Linked DNA regions of Homo sapiens: region 2 is linked to region 1. Evidence: fine-mapped expression QTL. A gene starts in region 1. The other region holds a variant in brackets. All regions are shown on one strand. Distances are between the middles of the regions. Region 1 holds the start of GPC6 (glypican 6). Region 2 overlaps GPC5 (glypican 5).

Evidence for each region.
Region 2: its variant is fine-mapped to the expression of GPC6 in aorta (GTEx, PIP above 0.99). The same link has a PIP of 0.9 or more in lung.

The regions. Positions count from the first base shown.
Region 1 is chr13:93,220,642-93,232,190 of GRCh38, reverse strand. It overlaps GPC6 (glypican 6), which reads right to left and starts at 5,384. Exons shown (of 9, transcript NM_005708.5): 1 at 4,575-5,384. The coding sequence starts at 4,734. RefSeq lists silencers at 3,601-3,895, 8,115-8,300 and enhancers at 3,949-4,791, 7,198-8,148.
Region 2 is chr13:92,696,088-92,707,636 of GRCh38, reverse strand. All of the region lies in intron 7 of GPC5 (glypican 5), which reads right to left. GPC5-AS1 (GPC5 antisense RNA 1) reads left to right here. Exons shown (of 4, transcript NR_046520.1): 3 at 1,578-1,676; 4 at 6,121-6,248. Among named protein-coding and RNA genes, the nearest start is that of GPC5-AS1, 20 kb to the left of the region's middle. The variant C/A (reference allele first, on the strand shown) is at 5,798.

The sequences.
Region 1 (11,549 bases):
TACTGTGGCTTTAAAGAGTAAGAGTTACCAAACACTGTTTTCCATTTAAGTTAATGTGATATCTCCATGGAAACTGGAAAAAAAAAAAAAAGTTGTGTAAATTGTAAATGTATTAAATTAGTTGGTTTGCCGGGGGAGCAGACAGAAAGACAGGTTTCCAGAGAAAGGAAACGCCCACTGGGCAAAGATCAGTGAAAAGGAAACATTATGTATTTTGAAACAAGCAAATAATCTTTTTAAACTGTAGATTTTTAGATAAATACTTGATAAATTAATATCAAATAGATGAAGACTTTAGTGCTTTTTTAATATCCAGCTGTAACCCAACTCTCAAAATACCTGGGACAGAAAAAGTTGCAAAATAAATACTGAAAACAGAGCTAGTTACATTTTTTTTTCTAATCTGTGGAGATAAATGTTCTTACTCCCTCTAGCCCCATGAATAACTTTCCAGCATGAGCTTTGTTGGACTAACCCAATATTTCAATAGGCCTAGTATACTGAAAGAAACCAAGACATGTACTTTAGTTTCTGTGTTTTATGTAACTATATCTTGCCAGAAAACGTTCAGAAAAAGGCATAAACGCATGAACCATTTAATGGTGGTAGCATGGCCAATTCCTGAGAATACAAAATCCAAAGTCAAAGTGATATTGAGAATTAGAGACGTTGGAACAAAATAGAAACGTATTTAGCATGCAAAACTGGAAGGGATACATATATGTATATAGTGATTAATAATACCAGACTATATATATATATATACGTATATATATATATATATATATATATACATATATATATATATATGTATATATATATATATATACGTATATATATATATGTATATATATATATACGTATATATATATATATGAAATGAGGAAAGAATAGATTTTGCATGCATTCATTCAAAATAAATGGTGAATGTTTAATACTGTAAGGCAGTGAGCCAAGTTAGGTATATAGACCCTGGAGTCAGAGTGCCTGGGTTTGAACTGCAGCCTCATTACTTACTAGTAGAGTCACCCTTAGGTAAGTTTATTAAAGTTCCTGTCACACAGCCTTTTTATCTATAAAATGGGGTTAATGTGTAGTATCTACTAAGTTATTGGAAGAATTCAGTAAGGTGATATTATAAAGGTAATAATTTTTAAGTAGGTGATGGGCACATAGTAAATTCTATATAAGAGATTGTTAAATAATGTCACATTACATAAGTAATGAAAACATGATCATGTAGGCCAATAAGTCACTGTTAACTACAAAGTGTTATAATTAATGATCCTAGCAAGACTCAAGGCATAAAACAGTGGCAGAGTAAGCCTGAAACAACATTCTCTGAATTTCCCAGAGTTTTAAGCAGGTGCTATTTTCAGTGGTAGAGTTCCTTTAGAAGTTTAGAGCCACCAACATGAGGAGGATTGGAAACTTAGGTCATAATTCTGATGAATGAGGAAAGACTAGAATGTTTCACACTGACCTTTGATGAGAGTAACTCTCCTAACAAAGAACCTGATGATTCACTGCTCAGTATCTTCCCAGAGGATAGAACAAGAAAAAATAAGCAAGCATATTGTGAAGGCTTTTGGCTAGATATCTGGAAACATTTCTATACCACAAGAATTGCTAAATATTAGAATGGATTGCTGAAAGGGGATCAAGAGTCTACTCCTTTGGAAGTTTTTCAAACAAGGATAAATAGTCTATCTGATCTCCTTGCCATGGTTTAAAATCAGTGCTGAGTGAAAACTGATGGTGCAAACTGCCCCTTGAAGGCCTCCTCCTTCCCAAGCATTCTCTGAAAGCATAACTTTATATATTACCTGTGATACTTCCTCATCTGTTGGGTTTCCATTCTATCCTAGAATAGAAAAGGGCAACACTATTTCACAATTGTGAGTTCTGAGTAAAACTTTGATAATGTCATGATGAAACATAATGTCCTTATTACTTCTCAAGTTATTTCACTAAGCAAGCTACCTGCAAATAGCTTTCAATTAGAAACAGCTGTCATGAATCTGAAGTCTGAACAGCAATTCTTTTAAATTTATGTGCCCTGGCAGATTGAAGACACATGAAATTCTTCAAGCAAACCATTAGATGCCCAATCAAGGCAAAGGATAAAAAAGAGTTTAAGAAAAGATAACCACTTACACTAGATAATTAAATGTAAACAGTATCAAGAACTAGGGAGGAGAGATAGAGTGTGTTCCTGTAACAACAGGGTATATTTCCTAAGTGATTATTAAAACAGCAATAGGTAGCATTAAGTAAAGTTGATTTTGAAAAAACAAGTATATCCTTAAAAAACACAATTATCTTTCAATTCATTATTTTCCTATTAAATGTGCCTCTGACCCTGTGGTGACCTGCATCTTGATTATGTCTACCAGCATCAAAGGACACAAGGCTTAAAGCAAAGTTAACAGTATGCCCTTACTCATGGAAAGTAGGTGAGTTTAAAAAAAAAAAAGTGCACACATTTTAGAAATTCATAGCTAATAAGCAAACACTGTAATTGTAAAAAGGTGGGGAGGAAACCAAAAACAAAAACAAAAACCTCTTTAGTTAAATATCCACCGAAGAATTTACATGAACCCCTGGGAATGTTCTCAACAAACATTCATGGTGACTACAGAAATTGTTTTACACTGAAAATCTTCACTTTGATATTAAAGAGATGTGCCTGATGCTGAGGATGAACTCTAGTCTCCTGAGAGTCCCATTATCCTCTAAAGAATACCGAAGCAATTTAAAAATACCTAACTATTTTCTTCTTTGAGACATCTTATCTGAAATCATGTTGGGAAATATCTTGTGTGCTTAAAAGATACCGTTTGAAAAAGCCCAGATTAAAGGAGAAAAAGTTCCTAGAAGAAGTGATCCATACTATAAACCTTTTAAAAAGTTGAATTCCCTGAGATTTGGGGAGGGAAAAAAAAAAGCGAAGCTGATCCTTATCAATTAATTAAAAAGAATGAAATAACAGTAGACAAAGGAGAAGGAGAGTTAAGAAACTTAAGGAGCTGTGGGGACAGTCGCTCTCTATTCATTGATTAACAAATTAAGGAGTTCTGGAAAAGAAGGAAGAAGTAACAAGGATAGAAAAGTAGGCTTATAATTCACCACAGATTCTAACTTAGACTCAGCAAAGGGAATGTCTGGCTCTGAACTGAAAAAGCTCCTTCTATATAATGAGCGTGGTAATTTGCGCCTCTTTTTTTCCCCCTTTGCCAATGCTCAAATTTATTTAAATGTGTTCATTTCAGTGTAAGTAAAAACCCTCACTTCTACAGCTTGAAAATCATAAGAAAATAGTAATTCCTCAACGTATCGAAACTGTGATGTTCTAAGATATCTGCAAAATGCTTTTCATCCATCCACCAGTTATTTGGCAAAAAGCAGACAGAGGCTGGTGGAAATTCAGCGTTTTGACTTGACGATCTGAGGTCACTAAGGACTTCAGCTGCCCGGTTTGAGCAGCCCGCGCCCTCGCAGCATCTCCTGGCCTCCCTCGGCCTCTCTCAGTTCTGTTCTTTAGCAGCCAAAGGATTATCTCTCCCCGACACGTTTCATTCACAGAGCCCCAGAGAAGCTCGGATTCGGTTGGAGCTAAGAGCCGGAAAACAAGCACCCAGACTGCCGCGCAAGTTGTCGGAGACCAAGTGCTACACACACTGGCGCCGAGAGAAAGGGTGGGCGCTCTCAAGCTCTTGGTGGAGCAATGCCAGTGGCCGGGCATGCGGGGGACACGGGGCCCCCGAACCCGGACCCGAATCCCCAGCTGAGCCACCCGCTAAAGTTGGCTGTTCGCTGGCAGACGAGGCCGGCTCCAGACCGGGTGGCAGGGTGTCCCCGGGCCCTGAGTGGCCAACAGCAACTGGGGAAGCACTGAGGAACCCTAACGGGAAAGCCCGCCCCACATCTGAAACAGGCAGCCCGTGAAGTCCCCAAACCAGCCTTGAAACGCCGGCGTCCAGAGGCCAGGTCCCCGGCGAGGGTCCCTCCCAGCCTTGCCCGCCCCCGGCCCGAGCGCCGGGCGCTCTGTCGCCCGAAGGACGGATAGGGGAGAGAGGGGCTGGGGGAGCCCTCCGCGTCTCTCCACCGCCCCTGCCGGCGCAAGGGCGGGAGTGGAGAAGGCGCCACTCAGACTGTGGCGCTGGGCAAACTGCGGTCGCAGTTCTTCCAAGTTTGCCCGAACCAGAACGCGGAGTGAGCGCCCGGCTCGGCTCTCCGTCTGCGCCTTGCAGCCGCCCCGGAGTGACCCGGGCTCCCTGGCCAGCCGGGCCTGAGCCATCAACTAAGGGGTAGAAGGGCGCGAGAGCAGCGGGAGGCGGGAGCCAGGGTGCTCCCGCGTGTGCACACAATGAGGCGGCGGAGACGCACACCTTCCCCCGCCGAAGAAGCCGCAGGAGCATCCGCCGCCCAACACGGAGACGCGGAGTCCCATAGCGGTGGCAGAAAGTGAGCACCAACTCAGCAACAGGGGGAAGGAAGGGGACGCCGGGCGGCCAGTGGGACGTGCGGCAGCCGAGGGCTGCAGCCTGCCCCTGCAGCGCGCCCGCGCTTACCTGCGATCTCCTGGTAGGGGATGTCCGCCAGGCTGAATCCCTTGGCACCGTACGCCTGGCGGACCTCTCCGCAGCTCCGAGCCTTCACATCCGCCCCGGCGGGGAGGGAGAGCAGCAGCCCCAAGAGGGGAAGAATCACAGCCCCGATCCAAGAAGGCATGGTGCAACATACAAATCCAGCTCGGTAAACCCCACGGCCGGTGCGCTCTTCACCTTGCCCCTCAAGCCGAAAGCCCGCCAGAGGCAGCGGCGCGCTCCTCGCCGCTGCCCAGCGTCACCCCCTTCTGCCAGCCGAGGGGACGAGCAGCGCAGCCCTCTGGACTGCGCTCAGCAAACTTTTATAAGCCAGATGGACGATGGCAAGCCAACAAGGGCTGGCTGGGAAGGCTGCTGCCTTGCTCCTCTAGCCCCCAGATGGAAACGGTGCAATCAAAACGAGGAAGAGAAGGAAAAGAAGTGTTTAAAAAACCACCATGGGGGTTCAGAGCTGCAATCCGAGTTCCGAGCCGCAGAATCCTGGAGCGCTGCGGGCTCGGCTCGCCGGAGTGTGCGGCAAAGGTGGGAGCGCGCGCCGGCTCCCCCGGGAGGGAGATGGACAAGCGAGAGCGAGTGTGTATGCGCGCGTGTGTCTGTTGGTGTGAGCTCGAGGTTCTTGGGGATGTGTGTGCGTGGAGGTATGTGTTGGGGATATACGAGATCTAGGGGAAACCTCAGCTTAACACAGGCTGTGGGAGCCTGTGAGAGTCCTCCTGAAATAGGAAGAGAGAAATCCTGGAGACAGTCACTGGAGGCAAGAGGGAAGGAGAAAGGAGGGGGGAGAAAGAAACGTGCTACACATTGCACAGCCGAAATTCACAGGCCGAGTCAAAGGCAAAACCTGGACTGGATCTCTTCCTAGTCGGTAGAAAGGGGAAAAAAAGAAAAAGAAACGTACCTATTTTCTTATTCACTTCACATCCTTTATACCGATCTGAAATGACATCAATAAACAATCTAGAAAGACAAGGTAATTTTAAGTCATTAACATGTTATTAAGCTGTATTTTTATGGAGGTAAAGGATAACGCAGTTCCAATTGTTGCTCTTAATATGTGTCCCTGACCTACTGAAACACAAAGCCAGAGTGGAAATAGTCATAGACGGGAGTTCATGGGTGGCAGAGCACAATCACGGCTCTAACTAGTTGCCTAATTTCTGTTTGACTTTGTTTTTTTCTAAAGGCACACATTACAGACTGGTAGTTCTTAATTTTTAAAGGTTTGGTTCTAGACTCAACAATTTCCCCTTTTTTTATTTCAAATATCTCATAGCCTTCGATCAGAAATCATTATGCTTAGGTTTCTAATGTGTGGAGGATCGGGAAAGCTAACAACCAGACCACAGAAGCAACAAGAAAAGGAGAGCACAAGGGTCAGAGGTGCATAAAGGGACATAATGGGGGAAGGGAGGTGATTCCTTCCCTCTCACTAGATGCCCTCACATAGTAGACTTAACATTTTCTTCCAAGTTAACATAATTCTCAAGTGGAGAATCAATCCAATTTCTTCTTCCTGTCTCCATTTACACTGATGTTCTGTGAACGGGATAAAAGTGAAAATTCAGGTTTGCCTAATTGACTTTGTTATGCTAATGGACGCACTAAAGTCAGCTGGCAGAAGTGTGTGTTGAAACCCAGAGCTCCTGAAACTACTAAGATAGTTTAATGAAAACCAAGACAAAATAATAATAATAATAGTGTTTATTCACTTACGTGGCTATGTGTCATAGGTCAGCACATTATTCACAAACTACTACAAGGTAATGCACAGTTTTGTGGAGCTCACCTATGAAGCTACACATGAAGATGTTTTCCTGATGATGATATGAATGACCAGAATGACTCATGAAGTTTAAATCTTTGAGTTTGTCATTATCATCACAACATATTAGGTACATTGTCTTCCTCTCTTTAATAAATTCCCCCTCTCCTAACCACCAAAAAGACTCTCAAGATTCAACCTCATTTAACCTTTCCAAACGCTTTAAAAATGAAGTCGACTTATTTACAGAGCCACTTTGTCTTCTTCAAACTCATAGGTCAAGACAAAACAAAACCAAAAAAAAAAAAAACAAAACAAAACAAAAAAAAAAACTCCATAGCTAAATCTTTCTGAAAACGCAACACACTTAACTTTTTTTCTCTTAAAATTTTAGCACAGTTTTTTGCTTTCACAATATTTATGCTAACTGGCAGATCTTAAATCACTGAACTTATTTTCCCTCAAGTCGGAAATCAAGATAAAATATATTCTGGTTATGTTTGTGGACAAACGGTGAGGTTGATAGGCTCAGGAATTGCAGTCAAGTTATTACTTCTGTCATATTTGACAACGTGACTTCCTTCAAACTTCTCTTTGTATCATAGTAAAGCATTATGCACTCCAGAGGAAGAGGGTAAAAACACACACTTCCTGTCCTACCACCTTATCCTGGGACTCATTGTAATTTACCCTGACTCAGTATAGCAGATAATTCATTATTTTAAATGGAGGTAAAGGAAGAATGGGTAAAAGCATAGTATATGTGGTTTTAAATTATTTGAAGATCAGCTAATTGTTAAGTATTGAATGAGCACTCAATACAACTTTATAGCACTAGACTATTGCACACCGTCCCTATACTTATAAAATGATCTTAGGATTTGTGGCAAAGATATTACATGAGACGAATGACTAAATAGATTAGTTTAATTCCATCAGGAGAGTCAAATAGTTTAGGGTAGGTTTGTGAACTCAAGTCAGACCAAAGAATTAGATAACTTGCTTTACTGGTGACCTTAACCCTGCCTGGTCCATTTGTTGAGTAATGTCACACTGTTTGCAGTGGTGTAAGAGACAAAGTCAAACATTCCAGTTAACACTGAGAGCCACAGCAGGAGCCTAGACAAGGGATTGGAATGAGAATGGAATGTTATGGAAGTTCCTGGAAGAGGCCTGACCAGACAGGAGAGAGGTCATATGGAGGAGCAGGCATCTGGTTTAGACAAAAAGGTCAGCTAATGGCTGGAATCCTAGCTGTAGTATTCATCTTGTGTGTAGTAGGAAAAAAGAATATGGATAAATGCCATACAAGAGGAAGCAAACGAGGCCAGGCACGGTGGCTCATGCCTATAATCCCAGCACTTTGGAAGGCCGAGGCAGGCAGATCACCTGAGGTCGGGAGTTTGAGACGAGCTTGACCAACATGGAGAAACCCCGTCTCTACTGAAGATACAAAATTAGCTGGGCGTGCTGGCACGTGCCTGTAATCTCAGCTCCTCGGGAGGTTGAGGCAGGAGAATCACTTGAACCTGGGAGGCAGAGGTTGCGGTGAGGCGAGATCGTGCCATTGCACTCCAGACTGGGCAACAAGAAAGAAACTCCGTCTCAAAAAAAAAAAAAAGGCCGGGCGCGGTGGCTCACGCCTGTAATCCCAGCACTTTGGGAGGCCGAGGCGGGCAGATCACGAGGTCAGGAGATCGAGACTATCCTGGCTAACACGGTGAAACCCCGTCTCTACTAAAAATACAAAAAATTAGACGGGTGTGGTGGCCGGCACTGCAGTCCCAGCTACTCAGGAGGCTGAGGCAGGAGAATGGCGAGAACCCGGGAGGCGGAGCTTGCAGTGAGCCGAGATCCCGCCACTGCACCCCAGCCTGGGTGACAGAGGGAGACTCCGTCTCAAAAAAAAAAAAAAAAAAAAAGCAAACAAATAGCATGAGGTAAACGGATACCTAGAATAGGACGATGGAAAATGGAAAGATGTAGATAGATTCTGAGGAAAGGATTGGCAGGAGTTGGTGCTTGGTTCAATACACAAGAAGAATTACTAAATATTTATTTTAAGATTGTGTCTCTGCTGGGTGTGGTGGCTCACGCCTGTAATCCTACCACTTTGGGACGCTAAGGAGAGTGGCTTGCCTGAGCTTCGGAGTTAGAGACCAGGCTAGCCAACATGGCGAAACCCCTTCTCTACTAAAAATACAAAAAATTCGCTGGTGTGATGGTATGTGCCTGCAGTCCCAGCTACTTGGGAGGCTAAAGCAGGAGAATCCTTTGAACTCTGGAGGTGGAGGTAACAGTGAGCAGAGATCACGCCACTGCACTCCAGCCTGGGAGAAAGAGTGAGACTCTGTCTCAAAAAAAACAAAACAAACAACAACAAAAACAAGACAAAAAAAAGATTGCATCTCATTAGGAAAATATGGTACGTTTAATAAAAGACAATACAACTCCTGTTTATACAGTACTTTCACATCCCAGCTGGTTTTCACAACAACCCGTTTTGGGCATCACATGAATGGAACCTCAGAGACTTTCAGTTGTAGAGAAAAATAGACACAGTCTTGAAGAGCAGCCATAGGTGACAGACGAGTCGTGCAGCCCCTGTCAGTCACATATCCCACAGCCATCGCCCTTTCTTTTTTGCTTCTCTAAGACTGATTATGTCAGGGGGCATTGTGCTCACCACCAAGGGATGAATCACAATTAGCACTTTTCCCTGGTGTAGGGGTGGGTGTAAGACCCATTTCTAGCCAATGTGATTTATGGAGATTTCTGAAAAAAAAAAAAAAAAAAAAAGTGTTTTCCCTGATTAAAGGAGCAGAAGGGCCATTTTGCCTCAGCCTCCTGCCTTCTTAGAGCTACACAGCCATCTTTTGCGTAAGAGACAAGACATTGCTAGAAGACAGACAATGACAATGGAGGGATGCAAAGAACCTTGAGTTCCTATTTGAGTCACCAAACCAGCCTTAGGACTTCCAACTTCTGGACTTCTTGTTAAATAATCAATAAATATCCTGTTGTTTACACCATTGTTAGTTGGTTATTCTACTGTTTACAAGTAAAAGCAACTTAACCTATACACCAAACTCAATGAATAATAAGAAAATTTAAAGGCAAGAGACAGTGAATAGTTGCAAAGGTAAGAAGAGAACAAAAACATTAGGTAGCATCGTGGAACCCAGGTGAGGAGATTTTCAAACATAAAACAAATTGCAGTGGACAAGAAAGAGATGGAGATAATGGTACTTGGACAATGATAAGGAAGCTTACTGGAAATTTTGAGAGAAACATTTTAGTATAGTAAACTGGGTGGATGCTAAACCACATGGAATCGTGTGTGAAGTAGGTGGAAAGAATATGGAAATACCAGGTAAAACTGATTAGAATGTGGTAACTGTATGTGGAAGGGGCAGAGAGGTAGTCAGGAATGCTTTCCAGAAGTTTCTAAAACTTCAGGGAAGAATGAGTGGACATAAAAAGAGAATGAAATCCAATATGATCTTACTGGGTTGGTTGATTTTAAATTTTTTTTCTCTTATCTGCATTTTTCATGTTTTCTACAGTAAAGATGAGTCCTTGGTTATGAGACAAAAAATATTGTTTTGACATGAATATGTCACACGTTTAACATAAATACAAATTATAGCATTTGGTTCATGTTTTACAAAATAAAAAGGTCTTACCCTATCTCATGTAAGTAAAACAATTGGCTGTTAATATGTTTCTGAATCAAATAATAACTCTGAAGTATGAAATGTCTTGTGTTAATTTTTTAAAAGCCTTGGGTTTATAAAAAAAATAAAAAGCAGAGCTACAGCAGAATTTATCATCCTTTTGCTCAGTTATAAAAATCATGAATGAAAATAATAGGTGAATTTTAGTTTTTTCTTAGTATTTTTTAGATCAAAGTAGGACAAATAACTTCAAATAAAATCTTAGGAAAACAGGAGAATGGACTTCAAGTGTCTATTCCACATCTCAGCTTGGCACAAATCAAAATCGCTTAGTTAACCTGCCTCTTGAAAAACAGGGCCTGTAATGAAAAAGCTGTCAGAAATTTAACAACAGTAGCTCTGCCAGGTGCCTGGATAATGGGAAGGTTGCTGAGTTACAGAGAAAGAAAAGGTAAACCTGGGTGAATAATGACCAGAAATGGTGAAAATCTTTCATTTCCATCTTATGGTTTATATCCAATGAAATACTAATAGTTCATTTAACATTTATTGAGCCTTAAACATATACCTAGTGCTAATATAAACCAATTAAAATTATATCTTTAGGGCAGCTGAGAACAAACTGGGTTACTAATGATCTCTTGGGGGGAAAACCAAACACCATGGGGCAGCAGATTCTTCTTGTCTTGCAATATTCTTCTAAGACTCTGAAGCCAGAACTGTTTGGCTTCAAGGAAGGGAATCATGTGATCTACTTAATCAGATTTTCTCCTAAAAGTTATGACAGGGTTTATCCAAGAGAATTGAAAGGACTCTAATTATTTAATTATGTTTAGTCTTCATATATGTCAGAAACTTAGACAATAAAAATATTCCATATAATCTTAAGATTTACTCATCGTTACCTAAAATACTACTATCAATAGTCAAGGACACAGAATAGAAAATGTATTAAGATATCACAATGATTTAAAATACTATTTTCAGGCCAGGTGCAGTGGCTCACACCTATAATCCCAGTACTTGAGGCCAGGAGTTTGAGACCAGCCTGGGCAACATATCGAAATCCTATTTCTACAAAATACACAAAAATTAGCTGGGTGTGGTGGGGTGCACCTATAATCCCAGCTACTTGGGAAGCTGAGGTGGGAGGATCACCAGAGCCTGGGAGGTCAAGGGTGCAGTGAGTGGTGACAGTGCACTGCATTCCAGCCTGGGTGACAGTAAGAGCCCATCACAAAAACTAAAATTAAATAAAATACTATTTTTAAATTTTCATATATATTAATGACCCAGGAGTCTACTCTTCATTGATTCTAAGTGATTTTCATGCCTAGAACTACATCTTAGGTATTAAATATATTTAAATATTGAGTAACCAAATATTTACTTTCAAAAATTGCTGTTAAGACTATGCCTAGGAACAATCTTGACAAATGTACTACTGGCTAAGCATCATTTCATAACATCATTAGGAAAGTGTATTGCATAGCAGGAAGA
Region 2 (11,549 bases), 520 kb after region 1:
TTTTTTAAAGAAGAGCTTTCATTTGTGTTTCTCTCACTATGATTACATGGGAACACTGGCTGAGTTTCTCAATTAAACTTAGTAACATGCTTTTTCCTACACTGATACATAGCAAATCTGTGCTATTCAGTGAGCCTTTCTTGCTACTTTTGTCCTGTTGGCCATCAGGCTAGTCAAGGGCCGTTGGAAACAAAACAACAAGCAGAGGAAATAGATTCTGACTAATAAGTATAGGCTCAAAAGGTGAGTCTGCATCATACGAGAGGCACAGGTGGACAGTCAGGGTGCATTTCTTCTCTGTTAGGTTCAGCTTTCATTATCCACTTCTAAAAGACTTCTATTTGTGTCTTGGGCTTTGGTCAATGGAATGTACAAATATGAATTTGTAGCATGGTAGTAGAATAAGGAGACTGAATGTACATATGGGTCAATTCAGTTTGCTATAATGAAATAAAATAGACTGGGTGGCTTGAACAGCAGCCATGTATGTCATATAGTTCTGGAGGCTGCTTGAACAGCAGCCATGTATGTCATATAGTTCTGGAGGCTGGAAATCCAAGATTAGGGTGCCACCATGGTCAGGTTATTGGTGAGGGTCTTCTTCCTGGCCGTGTCCTTCTCATGGCCTTTCCTTGGTGTGTACATGCAGAGAAAGAGATCTCACATATTTTCATCTTTTTATAAGGGCATTATCCCAATCATGGGAGCCCCACCCCTAGAATTACATCTAATCCTAATTACCTGTGAAGGGCTCCACCTCTAAGAAACATCACATTAGGAATTAGGATTTCAACATACGAATTTTGCAGGGACACAAACATTCATTCTGTAACATTGAAACACAAATCACTTTAAGTATGTACAGTTCAATTAAATAGATTTGTAATAGGCTATGTGAATGCTTCAATTTGTCTTGATAAGTTAGTTAGTTAGCGGAAAATATTAGAGTGTTCCATTACCAGGGGAGGCTAATATCATCCTGGAAGTAGAGGACATTTCAACTCTCTTGACTAGAATATACAGGAGCAGGCAGAGTAAGGGCTGTCAAAAGACCATTTGATGGCTAAGGGCAGTAAGACGAAAAATCATATTTGGACAAAGTAGAATCTAACTGTGGGAGCTGGCTCTATACTTCTTTGAAGGCTTTGTTTCACCTTCATTTTCCAACACTAGTGCTATCTTATGGAAACTTTTTTTCTGGTGGAAAATTCTCCCATTTGCCAGTCAACAACATACTTCCAGCCAGATGATCAGACCAATATATTTTAATAGCATTCTAGATATAATCACACATAAGGTAGAATGAAAATGAAGTTAAGCCTTATTTGTATTAAATTCATATAAAATTTGAATTATAACTTTTAATTTCTGGATTATGCATAACTGATTACGTATGACATTTTGAAAATGGTTCCCTACAAACATGGCAAATGAATCAATTGTACAATAAAGGAAAAGAGATATTAAAGGAATTTTTTTCTGTTCATTTAATTGTATATTATTTATTATATTAATATTTGTTGATGGACTACTTCTAGGCTGGGTACCTCAACAGAGTCTTTCTTTTTGTGACACAGGCTGGAGTGCAGGGCACAATAATGGTTGACTGCAGCCTCAACCTCCAGGGCTCAAGGGATCCTTCCACCTCAGCCTCCCCAGTAGTTGGGATTACACAGGTATGCCACAACACCAAGCAATTTTTTTTTTTTTTTTGGTGGAGATGAGGTCTTGTTCTATTGCCCAGACTGGTATTAAACTCCTCAGCTCAACCAATCCTCCTGCCTCAGCTTCTCAAATTGCTGGGACTACAGGTGTGAGCCACTGTGCCCAGCCCTTTATTGCCTTTTAAAAGCTTGCAAACTCACTGTTTAATACTATTTAGTAAGAGAAAGATAGAAGTTTAAAAAATAACTTTATACATTGCTTTCCAACATAGACGTATTGTGAGCCAGGAATGCAAGTCACATATATAATTTTAAATTTTTGAAAAGCAACATTAAAAAGGAAAACATGTAGTTGAGATTAATTATGACATTATGTATTTATTTCACCCAATATTTACAAAAATTATTTCAAGATAGAAAGAAATTATTGATGAGATTTTTACATTCTTATTTTTTCTATATTATGTCTTTAAATTCTGCTGTATACTTTACACTTACAGTATATCTCAATATGGAATAGCTACATTTCATTGCTTTTATAGCCATATGTAGCTAGGTGCTTCTGTAGTAGACATTGCCCTATAAAAACTTACTCAGAATAAAATTCATATTCTATTTAGTCTTGGTAAACTGCATAATAACCTGTCTTGACAAAAACGAAGTAAAATGAATTGTCAATAGAAATCAAAGTTGGAATATAGAACCTCACTAGAAATAATAAATTATTTACCTTACTACACTAAATTCAAAACTTATTTGAATGAATAGCTAAATAAAAATTCCTCGAAGTTAGTTTTAAATTATTAGGTGGAGCTTGTTGGCAAGACAAAAAAATGACCACTAGAGATATGTCACTTAATTTCACATGCTTTCAATTTAATCAGAGTAACACAATCACTAAACTTTTTGCCATAATATTAATTCTAGTACATCCATATTTGCAGTCCCATGAGCACTGTTCTTAACAAAGACCCTACACATCGAGATCATTAAAGATCTTACTTAGAACATAGTATTTAGACACATACATGTATTCAAGTATATATATATCCATATAAGTGTATATATATATACTCATATATATACACACATTGAGTATATATATATACACTCATATATTTACACACTAAGAGTGTGTGTGTATATATATGTAAGTATATATATGTGTGTGTGTATATGTATATATATATACTCTTAAGCAAAATATTCAAATATACAGAACTCTTATTATCTGCATATGCCCGATGATGCAAAATTGACTTCTTAGTATTAAAAAATGCATAGGTAAATTCTTCCATAAGTGGATTTCCTCCTTTTTTCTTAAACCAAAGGACAATAACCAATAGGTCATCATTTGTAATATTTCACATATTAGTGGTTTTGTGAGTTTAAGAAAGAAATCATATATAAAGAATAATTTAATTTGATGAATTTTGAAATCCCGTATTCTTGAAAGGATTTTGCTTCTGATAATTTTCCAATTGGGAAAATCATCTTCAAAAGGGTTTGGCTAAAAGCCTAGAGATAAATAGGCTTTTAATAAACATAATTTTCCTTTTTAATTGTTTTGGTTGGAGAATGAGAAAACTTTATTCTGCATTAGTAGTCAATATTTGTTCATGGAAATTCTCTCATATTGCCATTCAACTTCAGCATTCACAGTGGTCTAAGCAGCACTTCATAATACCAAACTTAACTGTGGCTGCAATTTTTTATTAATTTTTATGTTTGTTGCATTGGAGAGAAAGGGTTATTTTTGAAACATAAAAGCTTAGGAAAGATTTTACAAATTGGAATTTAAGCAAAGCATTGTTCTCTTGGTTTACTCCAACAATTTAAGGGTAATTAGAAATGTAAACTTCCAACGCCAATGAGAGAAATGACTTCAGTGTGTCATCCAGCCAGAATTACTTGCATAGTCCAAGTTAACATATTTTATTTCCAATGAGGATAATATTAGAATACAATTTTATCCAGAATTATGATGGAAACATTTTATTTCTTTCATGGAACAACGGTATTTAACAAAATAATGGGTAAAGAATAAACTAGGATCTCTAAAGCTCTGAAAAATCTATTAAATATTAAATGAATTCCCATGTGTGTAAAATTTTAGGTGATTTGCTCATTTCTTTATTTACAAATCGATATTCCCAGGACTATATTTAAACTTACTGAACAGAACACTAGTTAATTAAAATCTACATTTTAGATTTGTATACCCTTCCCCCAATTAACAGTAACATGCTGCTCAATGTTGTGAATAAAATATATCTAAAATATTTATATTCTTTATGAATAAATATAAATTTTTAAATAAACTTATAACATCTTATAAATATAAAAAAATTATACATCAATTTTAATAATTCTTAATAAATTATTTATAATGAATTTATATAATATTAACCCTTTTCTATACTGAAAAATTTTATCAGGTAATTAAAATAAATGGTTTACAGATTCAAAGAGTTCTATATGACAAATAAAGACAAAAAACCCTAGACTTTCAAAAGGCAGATATAATATTGCTTTTCCAGAGAGGTGTTTATCTCCCTATTTCTAAATAAAGTACTTATATAATTATTTCTGAATTTCTAGTATTAGATATTATCTATCATATCTCCTACAGTTAAGGATAAAGATTGAGCTCTCCTATTCCTTAGCCCAGCCCCCCAAGGGACACATGTACATATTCTTCCCTATTCTCTATTTTTAATTAATTTATTCTTTTGAAAACAGTCCCTATTGCATGTCAGGTATTATTGTGAGTTCTGGTAATTGATAAAAGTCCCTGTGCTCATGGAGCTTACATATTATTGGAGGAAGGTAGAAATAAATAACTACATTACATAGTGCATTCGAAGGTGGTAAGTGCTACTAAAATAAATAAATAAATAAATAAATAAATAAATAAATATATATATATGCCAGGTATAGGGATGAGGAGTATAAGGGTGGGGGAAGAATTGAATTTTAAAATAGGTAGGTCTCTCTGAACAATTCCCATCTGAGCTTTAGAGGCAGGTCAAGCAGCCAGTGTGAATATCTGAAGTGGAATATGCCGGGTTGGGGGAGCCAAGGAGACCAGTGGTGCTGGAGCAAAATGAACAAGGGGGAAGTCATGGAGGGAGGAGGGAGTGGAGATCACATAGAGTTACATATGCAAGACACCGATTAGCTTTTTCTCTGAATGAGATGGAGAGCCATTGGAGTTTTGAGCAGAAAAGTGACATGCATTCACAAAAATAACTGTGGCTGCCCTGTTGTGAATAGGCGATGATGGACCGAAGTATAAGAACCATTAGGACACTGTTGCAATAACCCAGAAGAGAAAATGGGGGCTTGGGCTGGGGAGGTAGCTGGAGAGGTGATGAAAAATGACTGGATACTGGAAACATTTTGAGATAGAATCGAGAGGATTTCCTTATGGATTTCTATTGCTTCTGACGGATCATGGGGTAACTCAAGGATTCATCCAAGATTTTTGGCCAGAATATCAAGAAGAACAGAATTATTACTTAGTTTGAAAGGAAGGTGAATAAAGCAGAGCTTTGGGGAGGGGGCAAGAGGAGAAGAAAAGAATTCACTTTGGAAATTTAAGATGCTGTTTAGACATTCTGGGTAGAGATGTTTGAATAAAGATTTGGATAGACCAATCAAGAATTCAGAGACATAGAGCTATATCATCAGCATGCATATGGATTTAAAGCCACACACTGGAAAAGATCATTCAGGATGTGAGTGTAGAGAGAACATAAGATACTTGTGGATGAAACTCTATGGATTTTCATTGTTAAAAGTTTAAATAAAAGGGCAGAATATAGCAAAGGAGGTAACTAAGGACCATGCCACTGTGAGGCAGGAGGATCAGTGCTTGGTATTCTGCAAGCTACTCTCCCTTCCATTCAGTTCCTCTGGAGAGTGCACGTCCCATCTCCTATAACAGGGGAGAAAAGTAGTTACCTACATCTTTGAAATGACAGGGGTTTCTGGAAGAGCTTATCATTTAAGTCCTATCCTGTCCCCTGACATTTAAAATGCATGTGAGGCCTTTATTTCCTGATCTTTTCTGAGTTCAGAGACTGGAATTAGCTTTTATTTTCCCTAGTATTTCTTCCCAGAATGAATTC[C/A]ATTTTTAGATGTCTCTGGTATGCCAAGTCATTTATCACTTTTTCATCTATTCGCCAACGATTCTAAAATAGATTGCTAGAATGTGGATTATGAGATAAAGGAATATGAAGAAACTTGTGATTTGTGAAATATACAAGAAATGGCCTCTATAGATATTGCACTAAAGAGAATTTCTTCTTCCTTTCTTACAGTTATTCCACTGATTGAAATCTGTGATACTTAATAGCTCTTATGTCTAATCATATCAATATGCAGCTGGATTGATACACTCCTGCAGGTGGTTGGGGCTCCTTCACTGCCATGTATGTCCCTTTTGTTGCAGATATTTCAAGATTCAGCATCATTTCAGACCCTGAAAAATCCCTGAAAATTGAATTCTCAATAGATAATGCAACTCCACATAATATCTGGATTTTGTAAATGCTTGCTAATAAATTATTTTACAACGTGGGTGAGTTTAGGTGTGTAGGTGATTTCCACACATTGAGAGCCAAAACATCAAATTTTAATGTTGGTCTGGTGAAAGAGACATAATATTTGATGGTTCATGAAGAATACTACAACATAATAAGCATTTTAGATCCAGGGTTATTTCTTTGTATGACTTATTTCCTTTTATGGCCATCAATCCAAATTTTAAAAATAATTTTTTAATATATTTAAGATGTTGTCATGTGTCCTAAAATGACAAAAATAAATTAGACACATGTTTAATCATCATTCCAGTTTGGTTTATTCACTCATATTTTATTGCATAAAACAAGTCAAATTATTTAGCATGATGTCAAAGTCTTAAGTGTAAACCTCTTGGGGGAAACAGCAAAGAATTGGGAAGAATATTACAGTCTATCATGTGAATTTCATCACCACAATCAGAAACTAACACAAAACCCAGAAGAAACCCTAAGAAAGATACCTGTAACCTGAAGAAGATGTAGACTAGATGCCAAAGACAGAGAATGATCTGAATGGAAAATTTTGCAGCTAAACTATTTTCCCTTTTTTGTATGTATCAGGGCAAAACAGTGCCTAATTTTCTCCTCATTTTCTATCATGAGGCAAGAAAACACATCTGTCAAATGTGGCAGGGTAACCTCAGAGAAAAGCTGGAGACAAGCTATGGTCATAAATGTATGCTAAATAGATGGTTCAACATAAGAAAATGTAACAAGTTAATTCAACACATTCATAGACTTGACTTCAAGAGAAAATTTAGGCAGCATTGCAATAGAAGCAGAAACACATTTGAAAAAGTCCAGTATTTATTTGTTAAAAACTCATACCAAATTGTAAAGAACATTGATGCTATGAAGAAACTGCATCAACTAGTGGGCAAAATAATCAGCTAGGCTTCATAATGGCAGGATTAAATGCATACCTAACACTATTAACCTTAAATGTAAATGGGCTAATTGCCCCAATTAAAAGACACAGACTGGCAAATTGAATAAAGAATCAAGACCCATCAGAGTGCTGTATGCAGGAGACCCATCTCATGTGCAAAGACACACATAGGCTCAAAATAAAGGGATGGAGGAATATTTACCAAGCAAATGGAAAGCCAAAAAAAAAAAAAAAAAAAATGCAGGGGTTGCAATCCCAGTCTCTGATAAAACAGACTTCAAACCAACAAAGTTCAAAAGAGACAAATAAGGGCATTACATAATGGTAAAGAGATCAATGCAACAAGAAGAATTAACTATCCAAAATATATGCACCCAATACAAGAGCACCCAGATTCATAAAGCAAGTTCTTAGAAACCTACAAAGATACTTAGACTCCCACACAATAATAGTGGGAGACTTTAAGACACCACTGTCAATATTAGACAGATCAACAAGTCAGAATATTAACAAGGATATCCAGGATTTGAACTCATCTCTGGAACAAGTGGACCTAATAGACATCTACAGATCTCTCCACTCCAAATCAACAGAATATACATTCTTCTCAGCACCACACTGCACTTATTCTAAAGTTGACCACATCATTGGAAGTAAAACACTTCTCAGCAAATGCAAAAGAACGGAAATCATAACAAACTGTCTATCAGACCACAGTGCAATCAAATTAGAACTCAGGATTAAGAAACTCACTCAAAATTGCACAACTACATGGAAACTGAACAACCTGCTCCTGAATGACTACTGGGAAAATAACGAAATGAAGGCAGAAATAAAGATGTTCTTTGAGACCAACAAGAACAAAGACACAACGTACCACAATCTTTGGGACACATTTAAAGCAGTATGTAGAGGGAAATTTATAGTACTAAATGCCCACAAGAGAAAGCAGGAAAGATCTAAAATCGCCACCCTAACATCACATTTAAAAGAACTAGAGAAGCAGGAACAAACAAATTCAAAAGCTAGCAGAAGTCAAGAAATAAGTAAGATCAGAACAGAACTGAAAGAGAGAGAGACACAAAAAACCCTTCAAAAACTCAATGAATCCAGGAACAGGATTTCTGAAAAGATCAACACAATTGATAGACCACTAGCCAGACTTATAAAGAAGAAAAGATAGAAGAATCTAATAGATGGAATAAAAAATGATAAAGGGGATATCAACACCAATCCAACAGAAATAAAAACTAGCATCATAGAATACTATAAACACTTCTATGCAAATAAACTAGAAAATCTAGAAGAAATGGATAAGTTCCTGGACATATACACCCTCCCAAGACTAAACCAGGAAGAAGTCGAATCCCTGAATAGACCAGTAACAAGTTCTGAAATTGAGGCAGCAATTAATAGCCTACCAACCAAAAAAAAAGTCTAGGACCAGACGGATTCACAGCCAAATGCTACCAGAGGTACAAAAACGAGCTGGTACCATTTCTTCTGAAACTATTCTAAACAACAGCTATCCCTAACTCATTTGATGAGACCAGCATCATCCTGATACCAAAACCTGGCAGAGACACAATAAAAAAGAAAATCAAAACCACAATGAGATACTATCTCACACCAGTTAGAATGGCGATCATTAAAAAGTCAGGAAACAACAGGTGCTGGAGAGGATGTGGAGAAACAGGAACACTTTTACACTGTTGGTGGGACTGTAAACTAGTTCAACCATTGTGGAAGTCGGTGTGGTGCTTCCTCAGGGATCTAGAACTAGAAATACCATTTGACCCAGCAATCCCATTACTGGGTATAAACCCAAAGGATTATAAATCATGCTGCTATAAAGACACATGCACACATATGTTTATTGCGGCACTGTTCACAATAGCAAAGACTTGGAACCAACCCGAATGTTCAAAATGATAGACTGGATTAAGAAAATGTGGCACATATACATCATGGAATACTATGCAGCCATAAAAAATGATGAGTTCATGTCCTTTGTAGGGACATGGATGAAGCTGGAAACCATCATTCTCAGCAAACTATCGCAAGGACAAAAAACCAAACACTGCATGTTCTCACTCATAGGTGGGAATTGAACAATGAGAACACATGGACACAGGAAGGGGAACATCACACACCAGTGCCTGTTGTGGGGTGGGGAGAGAGGGGCGGGATAGCATTAGGAGATACACCTAATGTTAAATGTTGAGTTAATGGGTGCAGCACACCAACATGGCACATGTATACATATGTAACTAACGTGCACGTTGTGCACATGTACCCTAAATCTTAAAGTATAATTAAAAAAAAAGAAAAAAAGAAAATTTCAGGCCAATATCCCTGATGAACATCGATGTGAAAGTCCTCAATAAAATACTGGCAAGCCAATTCCAGCAGCACATCAAAAAGCTTATCCACCATGATCAAGTCAGCTTCGTCCCTGGGATGCAAGACTGGTTCAACATACACAAATCAATAAACGTAATCCATCATCACATAAACAGAACCAGTGACAAAAACCACATGATTATCTCAATAGATACAGTAAAGGCCTTAGACAAAATTCAACAGCCTTTCATGCTAAAAACTCTCAATAAACTAGGTATTGATGGAATGTCTCTCAAAATAATAAGAGCTATTTATGACAAACCCACATCCAGTATCATACTGAATGGGCAAAAACTGGAAGCATTCCCTTTGAAAACTGGCACAAGACAAGGATGCCCTCTCTCACCACTCCTATTCAACATAGTGTTGGAAGCTCTGGCCAGGGCAATCAGGTAAGAGAAATAAATAAAGGGTATTCAAATTAGGAAAAGAGGAACTCAAATTGTCTCTGTTTGCAGATGACATGATTGTATATTTAGAAAACCCTTTCGTCTCAGCCCAAAATCTCCTTAAGCTGATAAACAACTTCAGCAAAGTCTCAGGATAGACAATCAATGTGCAAAAATCACAAGCATTCCTATACACTAAGAGCAGACAAATAGCCAAGTCATGAGTGAAATCCCATTAACAATTGCTAAAAAGAGAATAAAATACCTAGGAATACAATTTACAAGGGTTGTGAAGTACCTCTTCAAGGAGAACTACAAACCACTGCACAAGGAAATAAGAGAGGACACAGATAAATGGAAAAACATTCCGTGCTCATGGATAGGAAGAATCAATATCGTGAAAATGGCTGTACTGCCCAAATTAATTTATAGATTCAATGCTATCCCCATCAAACTACCATTGACTTTCTTCACAGAATTGGAAAAAATTACTTTAAATTTCATATGGAACCAAAAAAGAGCCCACATAGCCAAGACAACCCTAAGCAAAAAGAACAAAGCTGGAGGCATCACGCTACCTGACTTCAAACTATGCTACAAGGCTACAGTAACCAAAACAGCATGGTACTGCTACCAAAACAGATATATAGACCAATGGAACAGAACAGAGGCCTCAGAAATCATGCCACACATCTACAACCATCAGATCTTTGACAAACTTGACAAAAACAAGCAATGGGGAAAGGATTCCCTATTTAATAAATGGTGTTGGGAAAACTGGCTAGCCATATGCAGAAAGCTGAAACTGGATCCCTTCCTTATGCCTCATACAGAAATTGACTCAAGATGGATTGAAGACTTAAACATAAGACCTAAAACCATAAAAACCCCAGAATAAAACATAGGCAATACCATTCAAGATGTAGGCATGGGCAAAGACTTCATGACTAAAACACCAAAAGCAAGGGCAACAAAAGCCAAAATTGATAAATGGGATCTTATTACACTGAAGAGCTTCTTCACAGCAAAAGAAACTTTCATCAGAATGAACAGGCAACCTACAGAATGGGAGAAAATTTTTGCAATCTATCCAACTGACAAAGGGCTAATATCCAGGATCTACAAATAACTTACACAAATTTACAAGAAAAAAACAAACAACCCCATCAAAAAGTGGGCGAAGGCTATGAACAGATGCTTCTCAAAAGAAGACATATATGCAGCCAACTAACATATTTAAAAAAGCTAATCATCACTGGTCATTAGAGAAATGCAAATCAAAACCACAGTGAGATACCATCTCATGCCAGTTAGAATGGCGGTCATTAAAAAGTCAGGAAACAACAGATGCTGGAGAGGATGTGGAGAAATAAGAATGCTTTTACACTGTTAGTGGGAGTGTAAATTATTGCACCATTGTGGAAGACAGTGGGATGATTCCTCAAGGATCTAGAACTAGAAATGCCATTTCACCAAGCAATCCCATTACTGAGTATATACCCAAAGGATTATAAATCATGCTGCTGTAAAGACACATGCACACGTATGTTAATTGTGGCACTGTTCACAATAGCAAAGACTTGGAACCAACCCAAATGCCCATCAACGATAGACT